3 separate regions of the Homo sapiens genome follow, and regions 1 and 3 are each linked to region 2. Evidence: fine-mapped expression QTL. A gene starts in region 2. Each other region holds a variant in brackets. All regions are shown on one strand. Distances are from middle to middle.

Region 1 (5,222 bases), 70 kb after region 2:
GACCATCCTGGCTAACACGGTGAAACCCTGTCTCTACTAAAAAAAAAATGCAAAAAATTAGCCAGGCTTGGTGGTGGGCGCCTGCAGTCCCAGCTACACAGGAGGCTGAGGCAGGAGAATGGCGTGAACCTGGGAGGCGGAGCTTGCAGTGAGCCGAGATTGTGCCACTGCACTCCAGCCTGGGCAACAGAGCGAGACTCTGCCTCAAAAAAAAAAAAAAAGGCAGAACACGCCCCCATTCCTCTTAAGCTCCCTTGTGCCTCCCTACTCATCCACTTCCCTGCCTGGACTGACAACCACGTGCATCTGGATCCATTCACCCGCACGGAGGACGAGTGTGACTTGCTACCATAATAGCAAAAAATAACTCGGCAGCAGCATCAATTACAATCTTAAATGTCCTTGCCCTTTGATCTAGCAATCCTACTACTTGTGTAGGAATCTACCTACACAAAGTAAATGTTTAGTGTGTAAAGATATTGATAATAGCCCCAGCCTCCAAACGTGCAAGGAGAAGATCGGAACTGCATGGGGATCCATCCCTGGGAGGGAAGCTGGATACAGTGTGACCTGGCCATCCTGTTGAATTCTATGAAGCCCTCACTCACAATGGGGTGGACCTGTACATTTCCACATGGAGAGTGCTCTAAGATAAGCTGGTGAGTGAAGGAAGCAAGACGCAGGCCGATACTCAAGTGTGATGCCATGACCTGCTAAAACTAAAGTAGCATGTGTAGGTTGCAAGAGAGGACTATTAACACGCCCATCCCCAGCTCCCCGCTCTCATCTCTCACAGAAAGGGCTGCTTTCCCCACCACGACCTCCCTGGAGAGCCCACACCTGCTCGTGGGCTTCTTAGAGGCTGGGAATGGGTTGTGGGGGACTCCCAGGTGAGAGAGCTGGTCTGCAGAAAGCAGCTGCTGCTCTGTGACAGGGCGTGCGTCCCTCCCCACAGCGTTGTTTGTGTGTATATATGTGTATGTTTATATAGACAGATCATGGTGAGACTAAGATCAGACACACCAGGAAAGGCGCACAGTAAACTGGTCTCCATAGTTACTCTGGGGTGGGATGAGGTGGCCCTAAAGTGATGGGAGAAATGACACAGATCTTTCAATAATGACATGGAAAGATGTCCACAGATGACTGGGACTGGGGAGGGAGAACAGTTGCGAGATAATAGGATTCGTGGACTACCACTTTCAAAATGACATAGCTTTGTGTCTCCTTATATAGACACACCATGCTACACATCAAGCTTTTCCTGCTAGTTACTTCCTGGAAATGGGATCAGGAAACGGTGAGGGGCCACTCTGTTTACCTGCCCCTAGACCCCATGGAAAGGGTTGGTGGGAAAATCACAGCATGAAGCATAGCGCAGGGCTCAGCACTTAAGGCGTCCTCATCTACAGAGAATGTAAGAGTTTGGCGGAACTAGCTGAATGGGTCTTTTGTTGAATAAATATTGTGGCTCACAGGTAGGCCATGCCAATAATCAAATCCCCGAAAAAGTTTTATGCAATAAAAATACATTAGCATTATACCTAGACTTGACTCATTTTTACAATGGATGATTCAGAAGTTTCTATATTTTTAAGAAACACTTAACTCTCTTGGCCTCAGAGATATCATGTGCTCCTGGCTTTCTTTTCTCCTATATCACTGACCTCTCCTTCTGAGTCTCTTTTTTTTTTTTTTTTTTTTTTGAGACAGAGTCTCACTCTGTCACCCAGGCTGGAGTGCAGTGGCATGATCTCAACTCACTGCAACCTCCGCCTCCTGGGCTCAAGCAATCCTCCCACCTCAGCTTCCTGAGTAGCTGGGACCACAGGCATGTGCCACCACACCTGGTTAGTTTTTTGTTTTGTTTTGTTTTGTTTTGTTTTTTGTCTCTTTTGCTCATTCATTCATACACCCACTCATTCATTCGGCGTATATCTATTGAGTTCTTATTACATGTCAGACATATTCCTTGGTGGTGGAGATACAAGTGTAAACAAAACAGACTACATTCCCTGCCCCTGTGGAATTTAATTCTAATTGGAGGCACAAGACAACAAACAAATTAGTTAAATACATATATAGTGAGTGATAAGCACCACGGAGAAAAACAAGGTAGGGGAAGAGAATCAGGAATGTGGGGCTGAAAAGGGAGTTGCACTTTTAAAATGGTCATCAGAAAAGCTCTTTGGGTAAAGACCTAAATTCGATGAGGAAACAAACCATGCCTATTTCTGGGATAGGGAAGGGTGTTCCAGGCAGAGGGAACAGCAAGTACAATGGCTCAGAAGCTTAAGAGAACATGTAGCAAAGGAAAATTGCATGGAGGTTATGGAGCATAAGTGGTGGGAGCCAGTGGTGAGAAATGAGTGTGGAGACTGTTAGGGCTTTATCAGGAAAAGCACTGGGCTTCAGGCTAATGAATGTGGGCTCCATGCAGAGGGTATTAGGAATCGAAGTTACCCCATCAGGTTCTGTGTGGGGAGGGCAGGTGCTGGGGCAGCCTGGAGCAGGAGCCTGGTGATGAGGCTGTGACAATTGTTGGATGAGGGACAGAGGATGACTAAGGAGGGTGGGAAGTAGGGGACCTGATGCCAGAAGGGGC[G/T]TGTTTGTTTCCTGTAGCTGCTATGACACATTACCATAAACATGATGGCTTAAAGCCACAGAAATTTATTCTCTCGCAGCTCTGGAGGCCAGAAGTCTGAAGTCATTATCACTAGGCTGAAATTAAAGAGTCAAGGGCACTGTGCTCCCTCTGGAGGCTCCAGGCCAGAATCCATTCCTTGCCTCCTCCAGCTTCTGGTGGCTGTGCCACTTTTTAACTTATAGCAGCATGACTCCAATTTCTACCTCGGTGTCACATTGCCATCTGTCTGTCTGTGTCAAATCTCCCTCTGCCTCTCTCTTATAAGGATTGTATGTAGGGCCCATAAATTAGCAGATAATTTTCCTATCTCAAAATCCTTATCACAGCCACAAAGACCATTTTGCCACATAAGCTAATATCAATATTTAGGGGCTGCAGGGATTAGTGCCTGGCACCTCATGGGGGCTGCTATTCAGCCTGCCACATGGATAAAAGGTATAGATTGCTCAGACACAGGATCTCCTGCCAGGCCTCACCCACATGGCCCCTGATGACCTCCACATCGCTAAGTCTCCTGGGCGATGCTCAGTCCTCATCTTACCTGACCCGGCACAGCTCAGCTCTCCTAGTTCTCCTCCAACCCTGCAACTACTCCTTCTCATTGCCTCTGTTCATCCCTCCTCTTCTCCCCAAGGCCCTGGGGGCCAGCCCTTGGTGACCATATCTACCCACATGCCAGCCACTCTAGCCTAGACCTCTGTCCCCATCTGGAAGCCCATAAACCTGACTCTCTCAACAGCTCCACTGGGATGTCTAGGAGGGCTTTCCACATCACAGCTCCAAAGCGGGACTCCTGATCTTTCCCCAAACCTGCCCCACCTGCAGACTCCCCCTTCTCAATTGTCAACCTGTCCAACCCATCAGGAGGCCTTGGCAGCTCGGTCTTCACAACACACTCAAATCTGACCCCTTCTCCCCGGTCCCAGCCACCCTCTCCTCTCTTACCTGAATTTGGCTGCAGCCACCTCACTGGCCTCCCTGCCTCCCCTCTCCAAGTGAGCCTTTTTGAAGGTAAATCAGATGGCATCATTTCACCCAGGGTCAAAGCCAGGCCTTGCATTGTTCTACAAGGCCCCGCATGATCTGCCCGCTCCCTGTCTTCTCTCTGACCTCATCTCCTGCTAAGATCTCTCTCCTCTTCCTACTCCTTCCTCTTCACCCACACTCTGCTATTCCTTGAGCTTGCAAGCGCCATTTCTTCCTCAGGACCTTTGCACTGGCTGTTCCCCTTCTTTGGAATGCTCTTCCCTTCAATACCCCCATGACTCATTCTCTTGATCCTTTAAAATCTTGCTCAAGGGTCAGCTTCTCAATAAGGCACACTCCGACTACCCCAATAAATATTGCAACCTCCTCCAAGATTCCCAGTTCCTCACCCTGCTCCACATCCTCCAAGGCAGTCCCCGGGGCACATCATTTGCTTATTCATGTTTCCTCTTGAGTCAGCCCCTGAGAGATGGAACGTAGGAATGTTTGTTGATTTTGTCCACTGGTTCCTCCTTTGAACGTAGATCAGTGCCTGGCACATCACAGATGCTCAGTGTATGTTTGTTGCATGGATCACTGCGTATGAGGTTGAGGGAGCAGCAGGAGATCAGAATGGCTTTGGGAGTCTAATTCCATGTGGACAGTCTCCTGTCTCCATGAGGCGGACAGGGCAGGGGCAGGTCAGGGGAGCTCAGGTTTGAGTGTGGAGGGTATGAGGCACCCAGGACCTACAGAGATACCTCCCAGTGCAGCTGGCTCTCTGGAACAAGAGCTCAGAGAGACATCTGGCTGCACGAAAGAGCCTGGCCTAAATGAGCCTGGCTTTGACCCTGGGTGAAACTATAACAGAAAGTGCACCTTCTAGCCCTACCCCAGAGTCAAGCTCACCTGGGTGTGAATCCCAGCTCCTCCCATTACTGACTGTGAGACTCTGGGCAGGTTCCCTCCCCTGCTGCACTTCAGTTTCCTCATCTATAAAATGGGGACAGCCACTGTACAGCATCTCACACCGTGTTGTTGAAAGGGTTAAATGAGATGATACTCAAAGCATTGAGTATGTGGCATATGCCCTTGTCTGCTTTCCAAGGGCCAGGTGGCAGGGCAGGTAGCAAGTCCCCAGGAAGCTGGCCTGGGACTCTGATTCACCCGCAAGCCCTGGGCCCCTCAGACATTTGAGGCTCCATCTTCAACCCCTCTCTCGAAAGGTCCAATCCCCCAGCTCTGCCTCGTGCTGTAGGCATTGCCATAGTTAAAGCAGGCTCTCAGCCACATCTGAGCCTGAGTTAATTGGCCTCTGACCCATTTTTCTAGCGGACTCATTACCTCTTATTTAGCCTTGAAGACTCTGGTGGCTGATTGGCAGAGAAGCTTTCACAGCTGGGAAGAGATATGGGATCTGGGTCAGCTGCCCACTGTCCGTGAACTCTGGCCTCAGTAGCTAATGGCAGAACCAAGGCAGGCAGAATGAATTTCCTGACCCCAGGACCAGGCCCACCAGGGAGATAGAGTCACCATGTTCCCCTTGTCCCAGCCTTGCCTGGCTTCCACGTGGTTGCATTCCAGCCACCCCATGTGGGGGCTGTAAGAA
Region 2 (5,222 bases):
AACCAATGTTCGTGACTTTGGTTTAAAGAGGCTGGGAATCTCTGTGTAGAGGATCGCTAAGGGGACAGTCGCCAAGGGGATGGTCGCCAAGGGGACGGTCGCCAAGAGCCCTTCCAGGTCAACTGCCCCATAGGTGTCGGGCATCACTTGGGCAAATGCTTGCCCTTATGTATATAAAGCCTGGCTCCCTGTGCAACGAGCCTCTTGTCTGCGGACAGAGCCCCCCATGTGTGGGTGTGTCCACCCCACAATGTCTGGATTCAGCCAGGCCTACAGGCCCCAAGTGTGGTCACTACTGCACCCTGAGCCTGTTTCCCCTCCAGCTTTGATAGTGACTAGTGTAAAGGTGGAGCTTGGGCATTTCCCTCCCCAACCCCTCCCCATCCACTTCTTGAGCCAGAAAAGGGGAGTTCCTGATCACAGCCTGGCCCTACCCCCCAACCACCACCACTAAGGCCATGCCCACTTGGGAATCCCTTACCAAAAGACCTCTAGCCCCTAAATGAATACAGTGACCTCTCCCCTCCCGCCTCACCCTGCTCTAGCCTGAAGGACTGAGTAGCAGATTTCACATCCAAGTGCAAAGTCAGACCTTCCTTTCACCTATCAAGTGGCTCAGCTGCATCCCCACCCCCATCCCTGCCCCGCCCCACTCTGGACACATCCTCAGCTATGGGCCAGGGGTCCTACATCCCACACAGAAAGAAACCAGAATCGCCGGCTTCTCATTCCCTCCCTGACGGGCCCTTCCCGGCGAGATTCGCACAGGTTCTGGTGCTGAGTCAGAGGTTTACAGAGCATCAGAATAAAGCAGGGGCCTCGGCTGAGTCCTGCCTCCAAAGGCCCCTATTTGGGACAGCCCCACCCTGGCGAGATTTATAGAAACACCACCCTCAAACGGAGCGCTCCAGGCTAAACCCCCACCCACTCAGACTTTGAGGCACAAATGCCCAGCCCACCCACACCCGCAAACCAGAGGCTGGTACCTACCTCGCCAACTTCACATTTTGAAAAATAACAAAGCCAAGGGCAGAAGACAGACCAGCTGCCCCCACACCCAACCTTCTCCTCCCTGAAAACTCCACTTGCTACTTTTAATCTATTTTCCTCCATCAGACTGGAGGCAGCTCCCGGCCTTCTCCTGAGGCTACCATCCCCCCTCATCGGCTTCTAACTTTGCAGGTCACTGGACAAAAGAGAACCACCGCCACTCTTCGCGAGACCTCACTTGTCGCCCACCACCGCCCCACATCGCGCAGGCCCTAGTGGCCTGGATGCTTGCTGCCCCTGGCGAACTGCAGGGAGGCTTTGCCAGAAGCCGCTCCCCTGGGGCCTGAGGGCGCACTCAGGGAGGCCCAGCCCGGGAGGCCCCGGGATCCGCGCCGGGACGCCTCTCTCCTGCCTCATCCCCACTACCAGGGGCCTGACGAAAAGCCTGCGAGGTTGGGGAGAGACCCTGGGGGGCGCCGATCCAGCCACTGGACGCGCACTCACCCCGCATCGCCACGGAGCCCACGCGTCTGCGCCAGGGCTGCGGGAAACCCACGCGCGCTGTTCAATCCGGGCTCCGAGTGACGAAAACCCGCGCTTGGCTCCAGCCGGCCCGGGACCGACGCACCGACTGGCGGACGCGCGGACAGTCTGGCTTCCTAACTAAGTTTGAAAGTTCCCTCTCCGGCGACCGAAGGGGACGCGGACTGCTTAGAGGCACCCAACCCATCCAGGCTGGGCCAGACCCGGCAGTGGGACCTGACGCCTCGGGTTCGGGGTTCCAGGCACGCAAGCCTCCATCACTGGGAATGCGCCCGGCGCAGCGCAGCTGGGACCTGGCTGGGGTGGGGGGATAGATCCTGGAAACATGGAGGAGGGAGGGTGTCCGGCACTACAGCCCCAGCCTGGAGGGACGCCGGCTCACCGCTCCCGGGAGGACACAGGCCTCGATTGGCCGCAGCCTACTCGGAATCCGAGGCCCCGCCAGGCAGTGACGGCCAATTAGTAAACTGCCCAATTAGTGTGCTGCGGCGCTGAGAAGTTAAACCTCGACGCGCGAGTGTGGATGACCGAGGTGTGGCCGTCCCTGGGTGTGACCGCGTGTGACTGTGTGGCCGTCAGGACGATCTGTGTCTGAGGCTCACCGTCCAGGGGGGTGGCTGTGTGTGACAGCGTGCGCCTGGGTGAGGCGTTGTGGCTGCGAGAGTGTGACTGTCGGGCGACTTCTTTGTGTGACTGTCCCCCGTTGTGCCTGGGTGTGACAGCGGGTGGGGGCATGTCACGGTGTGTGGGGCATCGGAGCGTCTGTGGGTGACTCGTCTGTGGCGGTGAGGCTGTTTGCGGGTGAGTGGTTGCGTGTCGTTGTGTATAAGTGACTGTCAGGGTGACTTGCGTGGGACGGCGGGACCGTGTAAGCAGTGCCTGGCCGCCTGCGTGTGGCTGTGGGTCACTGTGACGGCTTGTGAATGACTGCGAGGCTGTCAGGGGGACGCGAGTGAGGGGCCACTGTGTCGTCGCACGGGTGGCTGTCGGGATGACTTCTGCCCGCGATCCCAACAACTCAGGGCGTGAGCGTGGCCGCGAGGGGATCGATGTGAGCCGCCCGTGCCCGTCGGCGGGGCTGATGTGCGCGGCCCCGTGTGACCCCGGGAGCGCCTGAGTCCCGAGCTGCCAGGTGACTCCGGCCCCGCCCGCCGGGGACCCCCGCCCGCCCCCGCCTACCTTGCCGCCGTGGTAATAGTCCAGGTGCGCCAGGCCGGCCGGCTCGGCCCCGGGCCGCGCGCCCACCGCGGGCGCCGAGGGGTACAGGCGGACGTCCATGGCGGGCGCGGCGGCGGCGGCGGCGGCTCCCGCGGGCAGTGCCTGGGCGGGCGGCGGGTGGGAGCCAGTGTGCGAGCGGGACTGCGAGCGCGGGGGGCGGGCCGGGGGCGGTGCCCAGAGGAGCGCCCCGCCCCCGCCCCCGCCCCGCCCGCGCGCGCTATTGTTCCGGCCTCGGGCGCTGCCTAGGGCCGGGGGCCCGGGGGCCCGGGCCGGGGCGTGGAGGTCCTTCCTCCGGGCTGGGCCGCCGCCGGGTCCCCCGCCCGGCCCTGCATCCCTGAGGGGGGCGCGCCTGTCCAGACGGCGCTTTTCCGTCCCGCCTTTCGCCACCCACGGTGAGGAGAGAAGCCCGAACGGCACCCCTCCCCAGAAGTGGGACACTCCCTTGCCCTAAATATTTGAGGCGGCGCTAGTCCCCGCCCCGCGGCGTGGGTGCGGGGGGAAGAGGAAGGTGGTGACAGGACCACTTTGGAGATGGGTGCTGCCTTACCTGGGGGGACGCAGGCCAGCGCCGGAGGATGCTCTTAGCATGCCCGCCCCCTCCTCGTCTCACTGATCTGAGTCAGCTTGACAGCCCCCCCTGGAGATTGCCGCGCTTAAACTCTCACTCACATATGGGGAAACTGAGTCAAAAACTTGCAGCATCAGTAATGGAGCTCCAGGCGGGTGGGCTCCGTTGCCCCCAAAGGATCCAGAGCTGAAACCACTTGGAGAAGGCAGCAGGACCCCACCCCTTTTAATGATAGGGAGGGGAGGGCCGCAGGAATGCCTAGAGCCCGAAGCTCTGAAGAGGGGTCTAGGATCTGCCCACAGTCACGGTCTCTTGGAGTGAGGAAAGGAAGAAAATGAGATTGGAATGGGATGGCTCTGATGGTGGGTCAGAAAGGTGACTGTGAAATGGGGTTCCTCCCCAACCAAAAAAAAAAAAAAAACCCTCTAGTTCTTGATATCACTTGCTGGTTGCTAGACTGTTGCACCCCCATCCCCCTTTTCATGCAAGAATTGTCTACACTAGCAATCTCCCCTAGCAATCTCACTGCTCACTGACTGCTCCAGGTATGTCTGACTGGGAGAGGCCAGGAGGCGAAGTCAGCCAGAATGGCATTCTTGTGTGGCACCAGGATATAGGATGCCATTGGGAGAAAAGGACTTGAGCTTCCTGCCCACTCAGGAGCTAGCTTAGAACTTAGTTCTCAACTGCTGCTTGGGCTTTGCTGGTCCTGGCCTAGAACTAGGACCATAAGAAAGATGCATTAACAAAAGATAGGTGTGGGAAACAGGCATTCACTGAAGGCTTGGGAACAACAGAGGGAAATTATAGCTCAGAAAGGAAAGAACTTCCAAATAAATTTCAGCAGTCATTGTTTCTAGAAATACAATGCCACACCTCATCAGAAAAAAATTTCCATTGTCCTGTGTCCATTTTTTTCATCTGGATATCCAACTGACCAGCACTCTTTATTGAAAAGATCACCACCACCACCACCACCCCCCTACACACACACACATACTCTTCTGCAATGCTAACATTGTCGTAAATCAAGTAGTCGATATGTGCATAAGACTGTTCCTGAATTCTCTATTCTGTTCTGTTAGCCTATTTTTCTCTCCCTGTGCCATTATCACAATGTCTGGATTACTGTGGGCTTATAAGTCTAAATGTCCCATGAAATAAGCCTACCCATTTTGTTCTTTTAAGACTGCATTGGCTATTCTTGATGTTTACACTTTCACAGAAATTTTGGAATCAGCATACCTATTTATATATATACACACAAACACACTAACACAATCTTGCTGGGATTTCAATTGGTATCACTTTGAACCTTTAGATCAATTGGAATAAAATTAACATTTTCAATAGTAAAACTTCTTATCCATGAACATGGTATGTCCCTTCATTTATTTTGGGTTTTTAAAAAAGTTATCTCAGCAATGTTTTGTAGTTTTCTACGTGGAGACCTTGCACATCTTTTATTAAATTTAGCCCCGGGTGTTTTTTGTTGCTATTATGAATGGCTTCTTTATTTTATTTTCTGTTTGTTGTCAGTACAGGGTTGTTGTTTTACAACATGTCCACAAATTCTTTGACACCTTTCCCAAGAAGTAGAGTCTAACACTCTTCCCCTCGGGAAGGGATTAGTCTTAGCGAATGGGTTTTAACAAAAAGAATGTGACAGAAGTGAATCTATGTGACTTCTGAGGCTAGCTAGATCATAAAATTAATAGGGCTTCTACCTGGCTCCCTCTCTCAGGACTTTTGTCTTTGGAACACTAAGCCATCATATGAGAACTCTCTCTTAGGCTGCCATGCATTGAAGAAGCCCAAACTAACCCACACAGAAAAATCATATGCAGAGACCCTGATACTAAGTAAAGAGGGATTCCTAGCCAGTCCCCAGCTCTGCCAGCTC
Region 3 (5,222 bases), 36 kb before region 2:
GCTTGACCTGGTCCCTGCTGATTTCTCCAGCCCCATCCTTCACCCTCCCACCATCTTCCACAGGGCCTCTACTCTCCCGCCAACTGAGCCACTCCTGGGGCATGCCAGGGCCCTTTCCCCAGAGACAAGTCCTTTACACTGACCTTGCCACCAGCCTGCCCTGCATTCCTACAGACGTGGACACACACCAACCCGGATCAGCCCAAGCAATGAGAGGCTCAAAGAGTGGCTGAGAGTGTGGGCATACATGTTGGAGCATGCGGGTTGGGAGTGGAAGGACTATGTTAAGAGACACCTCTGCCTGTGCATGAACGTGATGACAGACAGGTACAAGGGGCGCCACAACAGACAGGAGGAAGGGGTCAGTTCTGTCTGAGCAGACAGAGGCGGCTTCTATGCACTGGGTCTCAAATGATTTTCTGACTGAAGGTGATATATTAGTTTCCTAGGGCTGTTGTCACAAATCACCATAAACAGGTGACTTAAAACAACATATTCTCTTACAGTTCTGGAAAGCCCGAAGTCTAAAATCAGCCTCACTGGGCTAAAACCAAGGTGTCATCAGGGCTGGCTGGTCTGTAGGCTCTAGGAGAAAATCCATTTCCTTGCCTTTCCCTGTGTCTAGTGGCTGCTTGTGTTCCTTAGCTTGTGGTCCCTTCCTCCATCTTCATAGCCGTCACCCCAGTCTCTGCTTCCATCCTCACATCACCTTCTCCTGATTCTGCAACCCCTCCTCACTTATAAGGACCACTGTGATCCTATAGGGCCCACCCAGACAACCCATGATACTCTCCCCATCCCAAGACCCTTAATCACATCTGCAGAGCCCCTTTTGCCATTTAAAGTAACATACACAGGTTTCAAAGATTAGGACCTAGCTATACTTAGGGGTCATTATTCAGCCACCCACAGTGAGTCCCGTAAGTACCGACTAACTGTGTCTCAGTCTGCCTATATGTCTGGAGAGGGCAGAGAGGGAAGTACCTGCTGTGGTAGACTTTACTACTGCTCTCCAATATCTGGCTCTCCTCTCCTTCCTGGCACATAGGACACTACACCTCAGGCTCCCCTTACCATTTATTGGAGCTATGCGTCTAGTTTAGACCAATGGGTTATGAGCAGAAACAACGTGGGTCTCCTCTGGGTAGAAGTATAAAAAAGCAAACTTGAGATCTGCAGGCTTTCTCTAGAGGACCAGCAAGGTTCCAGATGGTCGAGACTTGACCAACCTACAGCCCTGAGTGATCTGTGGAGCAGAGCCCAACCCCTACTTCTCTGCTGATTGTCATGGAACACATAGTAAGAGCAAAAATAAGCCTTCCTTATGATAAGCAACTGAGATTCAGGGGGTTGTTACGGCAGCATAACCCTAACATGCTCAGTTAAGTTTAGGCCAGGGGCAGTGGCTCACACCTGTAATTCCAGAGCTTTGGGGGGCCAGGGCGAGAAGATAGCTGAGACTAGGAGTTTGACACCAGCCTGAGCAACATAGCAAGGCCCCGTCTCTTAGAAAAAAAAATTACTTTTCTGCTGGGCGCAGTGGCTCACGCCTGTAATTCCAGCACTTTGGGAGGCCAAGGCGGGCAGATCACGAGGTCAGGAGATCGAGACCATCCTGGCTAACATGGTGAAACCCCATCTCTACTAAAAATTTTAAAAAAAAAATCAGCCGGGTGTGGTGGCACATGCCTGTAGTTCCAGCTACTCGGGAGGGCGAGACAGGAGAATCACTTGAACCCAGGAGGTGGAGGTTGCAGTGAGCCAAGATCGCACCACTGCACTCCAGCTTGGGCGACAGAGCGAGACTCGGCCTCAAAAAAACAAACAAACAAACAAACAAAAAATTATTTTTAATTAGCCAGGCATGGTGGTATGTACCTGTAGTCCTAATCAGGAGGCTAAGATGGGAGGAGTGCTTGAGCCCAGGAGTTTGATGCTACAGTGAGCTATTATCATGCCACTGCACTAGAGCCTGGTTGACAGAGCAAGACCCTTTCTCTAAAAAAAAAAAAAAAAAAAAACATAATAAGTTTAATAGTAATGGTCATTTGCTGATCATCTACCATGAGTCAGGCACTTTATCTATATTGCATGTAACCCTCATAATCACCACCCAAGCAAGGTCAGAATTCACTACTTTTGTTTTGTTTTGAGGTGGAGTTTCATTCTTGTTGCCCAGGCTGGATTGCAATGGCACGATCTCAGCTCACTGCAACCTCCGCCTCCTGGGTTCGAGTGATTCTCCTGCCTCAGCCTCCCGAGTAGCTGGGATTACAGGTGTGC[G/A]CCACCATACCCGGCTAATTTTTTTGTATTTTTAGTAGATACGGGGTTTCACCATGTTAGCCAGGCTGGTCTTGAACTCCGGTACTCAAGTGATCCACCCGCCTCAGCCTCCCAAAGTGCTGGGATTACAAGCGTGAGCCACCACACCGGCCTATCTACTCTATTTTAAAGGTAGAAAACTCAAATACAGAGAGGTAGACGTGAAGGCTATCTACCTAGGAAGTGGTGGAGCTGGGATTCAAACCCACAGCAATGTGGTTCCAAAGCCAAACTCTTAACTACTGCAAGGGTCCCTCCTGAAAGGGACCACAGGCTTCCAGACCCTTCTCTGGCCCCAGACAGCTATCGCCCTGAAGGTCAGCAGGGGCTTCTGGCCAATGCAGGTCAATCATGGGGCCAGAATCCTTAATGACTACGTGAGCCCATCCCTGGGGCCTGGAGCCCAGAAACAAACCCCCCTCACCCCAAAATCTAGCCTGAACCTCTTCTGATTGCTGGGCTGGTTCTTACTCATGTACTCATGCGTCCGTGCACCAAAAAAGTATTTGCTGTGCATCTACTTTGTGCCAGGCACTATTCTGGGATCCTGGGAGACAGCAGTGAACAAAGACCCCTGGAGTTTACGCTCTTGCATTGGAGATAGAAAACAATACACATAGTCAATAAGTGACTTACATGGTATATGGAAAGAAGAAAGAGTTGAGCAGGTGAGGGGTATTGGGAATGTCGAGATGGAGGGTATGCACGTTTAAACAGAGCAGTCAAGGTGGGCCTCATTGAGGAAGTGATAGTGGAGCCAAGACTGGAAGGAGGTGAGGGAGTGAGCCAAGTAGATGTGTTGGGGAGAGCATTCCAGGGCCTGACAGCCTGTGTACAGGCCCTAAGATGGGAGCTGCCGGCAGGTGTGACCTCGGTCAGCAAAGAGACCAGCAAAGACAGGCAGAGCAAGCAGTGGGGAGGGGGAGGGGAGGCCAGAGAGGCAACTGGGGATGGAGTGTGCCCCACAGATGGCACTGAGATTACCCCTCCCCAGAAAGAGGAAGCCAGCACTTTTTCCACCGGCCTTATCTGATGCTGTGGTTGGGGAGCCAGCGAGGGCAGGCGAGAGGGCTGCAGAGCTCAGCACATCCGAGGAACCTCAGCAGGGCCTCAGAGCCGCTGACATCCGCTTGGCCTGCGGCTTCTTCCTGTGGCTTCTGCATCTCAGGTTGCCCCGATGGCTGCTATTTTTGCTCCTGTTTGGGGTTCTGTGGTGGGCTCGTCTATGCATTGTTGAGTTTGCTCTGCTCAGAGCAGATGTGAGGGGTTAAACATTCCAAGTGTCTTTGGGAACACTTACAATCCAGCAAGTGGGAAAGAGGAGGATGTTTGTTATACATGTCATCTCGTCAATCCTCGTGACCCTCCAAAGCAGAGAGGCTAGGTGGCTTGTCCAAGGTCACAGCCAAATCAAACCAGTTTGAGGATCCTATTCCAGTCTGTCTAGGTCTGAAGGCCCTTAATTTGCAGGGAGGTCTTTTGCATCTACTGCCTAAATTAACATTTCTGTGCTGTCTGGCCTTGCAGCACGTGTGAGAATAAAGGTGCATCATCGTGGGTGATGTCCTCCCAGAGCATCACAGCACTGATGGGGAGGACAATGACAGAAGCGGGCACAGGGAAGGGGACCCTGGCTCTGATAGTTGCGGCTAGACGGTGGGGGCAATCAGAGAAGGCTTCTGGAAAGCCGTGGATGTCGTGACCACACCTGCGAGAATAAACAGGAGTCCAAGGGGTAAAAGAACCATTCCAGACAAAGGGGTCTGAAAGTAAAATTAAGAGGCACAATAGCTTGGTCAGTGGGGAAGCGGATTTAGGAGGTGGCAGGACAGTGATTCTGCAGGAGGCAGAAGCTAGCTTGTGGACTGCAAAAAGTGAGATCAGACAGGTGCCCAGCTCCCCCAGGTGGGTATATTAAAGGTATCAGAACAGATCCAGCTGATTACAAAAGACAACCAACCACAGGCTTTAAGCAGGGAGGGATGTGCGCATCAGGTGGTTCTCAGAGATCCCACTGGCTGCTGCGAGAAGAACAGACTAAGGAGGAAGGGTGGAGGCAGGGAGGCCTGGGAGGAGGCTCCTGCGGTCATCCCGGTGACAAGTAATAGTGAAGCGGGGAGAAGTCATTGCACCCTGAAGGTACAGCCAGCAGCAAGTGCAGTTGGATTAGATGCAAGGAGTAAGGCAGAGAAAGGGGTCAAAGATGATCCCACATTTGTGGCCTAAGCCGAGGGGTGGACAGTCATATATAAAAAGTGGGCACAAAGTAGAAGGGGCATTTTGAGGTGACGGAGGGTGTGAATCAGGAAAAGGGCCATTGAGAGTAACTGTTTCCTTCTAGATGAGCCCCTGGGGTGAGGACATGCAAATCAAAGCTGCCTTTCTACACCAATCCCCCCATGACTAGGGGGCTGCTGCTCCCATGGCCTCAATTGCTCTTCACAGCAAGGAAGACCCAGGGAGGTTAAGTGAGCTGCCTCAAGCCTCACAACTAGAAGTCAAGAGACCAAAGGCTAAAAATCCAGGTCCACCCAATTGCTACTCCAGGCTCATCTCAACACCCAACAGCAGGAGGTTCCCGAGGCCCTCCCTGGAAAATGGCTCCCCAGGCCCAGGAGAAGCTGGAGAATTCACTCCCCATCTCCCCATCTATATTTCATGCCTCCCTTTGCAACTGTCCAGATGTGTGAACATCTGCCAGGCCCCCTGGCTAGACGGAGATGGCAGCTCCTGGGCAGCCCTGGGCCTCCCAGTGGGCGACACAGAGGCTGCCCCAGCAGGCCCGGGGCCTCCCAGTGGGTGGCACAGAGGCTGCCCCAGCAGACCCCCAGCTGCCTCCACTGGAAACCTCACCTCCCTGCCCCTGCTCCCAATTTCATTAATTACCGGTTTGTTCATGC

Direction of the effects. Positions count from the first base shown, and alleles are read on the strand shown. Sizes are in standard deviations (SD) of each study's normalised expression. Not every link is listed here.
For the expression in breast of the gene that starts at base 2,851 in region 2, T is the low allele of the variant in region 1 and G is the other (moderate effect, 0.48 SD a copy in GTEx).

The links.
Region 1: its variant is fine-mapped to the expression of TOX2 in breast (GTEx, PIP 0.96). The same link has a PIP of 0.9 or more in ileum.
Region 3: its variant is fine-mapped to the expression of TOX2 in whole blood (TOPMed, PIP 0.99).

What each region holds. Positions count from the first base shown.
Region 1 is chr20:43,842,463-43,847,684 of GRCh38, reverse strand. No RefSeq gene overlaps it. Among named protein-coding and RNA genes, the nearest start is that of LINC01728, 50 kb to the left of the region's middle. The variant G/T (reference allele first, on the strand shown) is at 2,606.
Region 2 is chr20:43,912,481-43,917,702 of GRCh38, reverse strand. It overlaps TOX2 (TOX high mobility group box family member 2), which reads right to left and starts at 2,851. Exons shown (of 9, transcript NM_001098797.2): 1 at 2,713-2,851. The coding sequence starts at 2,811. RefSeq lists enhancers at 241-300, 1,679-2,396, 2,397-3,114 and silencers at 1,371-1,420, 1,481-1,540, 2,611-2,700, 2,751-2,860, 2,881-2,980 and 1 more.
Region 3 is chr20:43,948,507-43,953,728 of GRCh38, reverse strand. The region is part of intron 1 of TOX2 (TOX high mobility group box family member 2); the gene reads right to left. Among named protein-coding and RNA genes, the nearest start is that of TOX2, 36 kb to the right of the region's middle. RefSeq lists an enhancer at 3,065-3,154. The variant G/A (reference allele first, on the strand shown) is at 2,284.